2 separate regions of the Homo sapiens genome follow, and region 1 is linked to region 2. Evidence: fine-mapped expression QTL. Tissue or cell type: blood mononuclear cells. Region 2 holds a variant in brackets; the other region holds the start of a gene. All regions are shown on one strand. Distances are between the middles of the regions.

Region 1 (2,647 bases), 150 kb after region 2:
GGTCACTGCTCCATGGCGAACTAGGGGAGGAGAAGGGCAAAAGTGGCAGATCGCCCAGGCCTGCCTCGATGGCCATCACTACTTCCAAAGACAGGTTGTAGGGTAGCAGCCCTTCCACGCGGTTCAGGTTGTCCACGGCAAATAGGAGGGCGTCCCGTGGCCACAGGGCCTCCGCCCTGGCGCCCTCCCCGGGCTTACGGGAGCCCGGCGGCCCCCGGCCATGCAGGGTGCTCCCCAACCAGCGTGCGCCCGGCGAGGGCGCCGGGGACCGCCTAGTCCCTGGCTCCGGCTCATCCCTCTGGGCTCCTGCTCGGCTGTCGTCCGGAGCGCGGCTGGCCGCGCGGGGGGCGGTGGTCCAGGGCTGCAAGTGCACCGCGCCCACCCTCACCGCGTGCCCGATGCGCTTGAGGATCTGGCAGGGCTGCGGGTGCGAGGAGGAGCTGGGCACCCCGGCCAGCACCAGTGCGCAGGGCGGCGGCAACAGCAGACAGACCCTGCTCAGCAGCCACCACAAACTCAGTCTCCTCATTACTGAGACCCGCAGGGAGAAAGCGCGCCCCCTCCTGCGCCCGGCTCGCCCCTCTGCAGCCGCTGCCTGAGGTCTCCGCCTCCAGGTCCCGCGCGCAGCTTCACTCCACTCGGTGAAGCGGTCCCAGGAGCTGGAGCGGTCTCTAGGCCATGCAAGTTGGAGCGTAGCGCGCCTCCGGCAGTCTCAGATCCCGCTCCCAGGTCCCTCCGCCTGGCATCCTCTGCCCGCCCGGTCACTGCGCTGAGCAGGCAGGCGGGCGGGCCGGCGCCTGTCACCCGCAGCTGGAGCGCCCGTTCCCTGCCCGCCCCATCTGCAGGGCGCCTCGGGCACTGCGTCCGGCCCCGCGAGGCGGCCGGGATGAGAAGCAGCCGGAGTTCCTCGGGGGCAGCAGTGACAGAGGAGCGACGCGCTCTCGCCTGGATTCTTTTCCTTTTCTGCCCAGGCGAGACCCACTTATTTCCTGGGGTCGCGTTGGAGAGGGCTTTCACGCCCGGGGTGCGGAAAAGAAGCCAAATCCACCTTCCTCCACTGTTGGCCACCCTCCTGCAGGCTCCCCCAGCGCCGACTTCATTTTCTCTCTTCTCTCGCTACTTCCTCTCTGCCTTTCTTTCGTTATTTTTCCACCGAGTCGCCACCGCCGCTTGCTTCCTCGGAGGAGCAACGCGACTGGCCAGCAAAGGGTGGCTCTGCTCCGAGCGCCAAAGTTCTCCCCGCCTCAGCCGGCGCCTCCCTGTTGCTGAGCCCTGGCGCCTGCCTGTCGCTTGGCTGCGCTAAACGCCCACTGTTGGTGAGATTCCCGAGTGGCACATCCCGCGCCCCTGGAAAGTCCTCTCCCCTCAAAGGCTGGGCGTCATAGTTTGCAAAATTCCCTAAAACCTAAGAAGGAAAATAGGACTATGAGCCGGTGAGAATTCTGAATTCAGAGTCGCACCTGAGGGATCTGAAATTCGGTGGTTCACTGAAATAGGTTCAAAGAGGCTGTGACTTAACGAGCTTCTGGATGTGTCGCTTTTAAGGTTTTTCTAGCTAAGGGTATTAAAGTAAGAATTATTTACACATTTTTATCTCCTCAGCTTCTTTCTTTCTGGCATGTGAGCCTTTGCATTTTTTTTTTAAAGAATCCCTGTTTTTAGGTTCTCAGAATTAAAACAAAGTGAATTCAAAGCAATTTTTTCAGTTCAAGAAATTAAAGAGTTTCAAAATACTTTTAGAGTTTAAAATGCAGTCAACAGCAGTTCCCAGTTTAGATCAAGAGTCCCCAGATCACAGTTTGTACTAAGTTATTTCATTTGTATGGTAATACAGTGAAGTCAACGTGTTGTGATCTAATCTTTTCCTCCATGATTTGAATAATCTGAAACTAGAAGGTAAGGAAAGAGTTAAGGGCAGGCCTGTGGTTTGCACATATACAGTAGATTAATTTTATTTTATCCCACAGTATCGTTTAGAAGGAGGGTAGGAGAGATCCATGGGGTGGAGCAAGCACTGGGGATCAGCCTTTCTGAGTCTAATACTACTTCATGACCATGACCTTGGCAACTTATTTCACCCGACCTTGCCCTGCTGTTTGGATCTGCTAAATTGTTATGCAAATACAGCTGGCTTTTAGCTCTGGAGGGTTGTTTTGATTCATGAGCTAAAGTTTCCATCATGTTTTAAATCCTGGGAAGAAGAGACTCTAGTTAAGTAAAAATCCCAAGAAGCTTGCAAAGTGAATGCTGTTTTCCCCAGCCCAGATCTTTAAAGGTATCTCAGAACAAATTTACCAGACATTCGGCATCGTTTTTGCAAGACTGGGTTGCTAGAGAAGAAAAGTCTCCCATGAGAAAAAAAGTGAAAATCATAGTAGTGGGCTGAATGAGGAGGGAAAGAAACCCTCCTGAAGCCTGAGAGAACATCCCATGAATGGAGAAAAGCTGCCTCTAGTGTGCTGGAAATTCCCCCTTGATCCACAGGATTCCACTGATTGAGATCTGAATAATAAAAGTGTAGAAGTCTGAGGTCCTTGCATTGCAGGAAGATTGGGTATCTACTAATTGTGTAGTAAGGAGGTATATTTGTCTGTACTCGAGTGTGTGTTTTGAAGAATATAATGTATAACTTTCTAGGTTATGACCA
Region 2 (2,500 bases):
GCCTCCCAAAGTGCTGGGATTAAAGACGTGAGCCTCTGCACCTGGCCATGTATAGCATTTTAAAATATTTTTATTTCTTTGAGATATACATTGCAATGAGTGAGATTACCTGGTCAAAGGATACAACTGTTCTGATGACTTGTGATGTGTAAAATGACCCATAAAAAGGGTGAAAGCCATTCCCAATGCCACCAAAGATACTGCAATGCCTAGAAGGCTTCTATTTTTGCCAACTGTTTTATAATTATTCATTTTTCCTGTTTTAAATATTGTAATTTGTATTTATTGAATTAGCAAGCCTATTTTTCCATGTTTGTTTTACCTATCTCCTTTTGAATGAATCATATAATGACTTTTTTGCATATTTATTTATGCATATCAGACACAATGAAGCTTTTTTTTGAAAAACTGCTAACCCTTTTGCTAACATGTTATGTTTCTCCCTTTTTATGTTTTCTTTGTTTTGTTATATTTTATTATATAAAAGTTTGAAGTTTTACACAGCTATACTTATTTTGATTATTGTACATTTTTCTACTGTTTCAGGCATTAGAACATATTGATTATGGGGATAAATATTTTGTGTCCAGTGTTATATCTTTAAAAAATAGTGAACCCTTCAGTCCATTTTGAACTTCTGTGCCAAAGAGTGTAACTATGTTAATTTTTCTTCACTGAAACTCTTAATTTCATCTCAATATTTCAGAGACTCCTTAGTCAATAAAAAGCTACCTCCATATTAGAGTGACCTGCATTTCTTTGTAGTAATTTAGGTTTTTATTTAAAATCTTTAAAGGTTTTATTTAAAATATTGGTAATTTTTAAAAAACATTGTGAGAACAAACACCATGTAAAACCAGTAACAACGAAAGCAAACATTTGTAGGTCAGAGTTAGCCTGTGAGTAGTCAGACTGTCTTCTGATCTACACAGCTTTACTGCTACTACGGTGACCCTTCAGTGTTAGAATTTTTCATTATGAATCAGCTAATTCCTGATGATTCATGATTTATAGTTCACAGTCATTGGCTACTGGGGTAGGTACGGTAGTTGACACGGCAGCAGAG[A/G]AGTCCGGTCTGATTCTCAGTCTGGTGGCCTTGTTCCTCTACCATAATGACACTCTATTTATTTATTTATTTATTTATTTATTTATTTATTTATTTATTTATTTTTTTGAGATGGAATCTCGCTCTGTCACCCAGGCTGGAGTGCAGTGGTGTGATCTCAGCTCACTGCAACCTCTGTCTCCCTGGTTCAAGCAATTCTCCTGCCTCAGCCTTCCGAGTAGCTGGGATTACAGGCACGTGCCACCACGCCCAGCTAATTTTTGTATTTTTAGTAGAGATGGGGTTTCACCATGTTGGCCAGGATGGTCTCGATCTCCTGACCTCGTGATCTGCCCGCCTCGGCCTCCCAAAGTGCGGGGATTACAGGCATGAGCCACCGCGCCCGGCCAACACTCTTTTTAAAAACATCCGAGCCTCCTCCTGTTCAAAGTATTCAAAATAGATATAACACCATAGCAGACTAACTACCTACTCTATCTCTTAACAGAAAGAAAGAGTCAGTACTATAAGTAGAGAATGGAATTTATACTTTTTTTAAATAAAAAATTGTCTTCATTTAAAAAATTCATACTGTTCCTCAGACAGTGGCTTAGGAATTTGTAATTAACAAAAATGTCTGGAAGATATTTTTTCCTTGAGAATGTTTCTAAAGCATGAGAGAATATACACCAAAGCTAAATTGAATTTGCTGAGGCCATATTTTTTTCTCTGTTTCAAAAAGAGTGTCTAGTGGTCTGGGGATTGCAACATATGGTACAGAGCAGACATAATCCAATTAACATAGGATTCATAACAACATATTGTGACTGATCTCTATAGCCTCAGAGCATATTGGTTTGCGTTATCGGTTTAATCTAAATATTGTCACCTGTTTCTCAAGATGAGCCAAAGGTGGAACATGGCTTAAAACTGTCTCGTCTAACATATCTGTTTCATTGCAATGCATAGAACCAAAGAGGTGGAGGCTGCTTGTTCTTTGACAAGCAATTTACCTCTTTGGGCTTCAGTTTCATCATTTATGAAAACTGAGGCTTGATTTGATGACATGGTTAAGACTATAATAAATAATTTGTAACAGGTAGATATAGGAGCTATAAAAATAAGATAAATGCAGAGAGGTAGAAATAAAGCTCAGGATTTGGGGTCAGAAAGCCTGGTTCAAATCCATGCTTTGCCACTTACCAGCTGGGCGACTTTGGAGAAGATGCTAGATCTCTACATGGCATCATCTGTAATGCTGAAATAATGGCACCAGACTCACAGTGTTGTTATGATGATTAAATGATATGTATAACAAAGGTTATATCAAAAGTTATGGGACAATTGCTCAATAAATGTTTATTATCATCATCCCAAGAAACTGTATAGAACTAGATTTGTTGGCAACTGGCAATTAACTGACAGGAAAAACAAAGCATTCCGATTTGGGAATAA

Evidence for each region. PIP is the estimated chance that this variant, and not a neighbour inherited with it, causes the effect.
Region 1: GRIN3A starts here. The variant in region 2 is the best candidate, but not a certain one, in a credible set for the expression of GRIN3A in blood mononuclear cells (TOPMed, PIP 0.68).

What each region holds. Positions count from the first base shown.
Region 1 is chr9:101,737,451-101,740,097 of GRCh38, forward strand. It overlaps GRIN3A (glutamate ionotropic receptor NMDA type subunit 3A), which reads right to left and starts at 1,197. Exons shown (of 9, transcript NM_133445.3): 1 at 1-1,197. The coding sequence starts at 529. RefSeq lists enhancers at 506-1,030, 1,031-1,554.
Region 2 is chr9:101,589,226-101,591,725 of GRCh38, forward strand. All of the region lies in intron 6 of GRIN3A (glutamate ionotropic receptor NMDA type subunit 3A), which reads right to left. PPP3R2 (protein phosphatase 3 regulatory subunit B, beta) reads right to left here. Exons shown (of 1, transcript NM_147180.4): 1 at 2,379-2,500. Among named protein-coding and RNA genes, the nearest start is that of PPP3R2, 4.5 kb to the right of the region's middle. The variant A/G (reference allele first, on the strand shown) is at 1,067.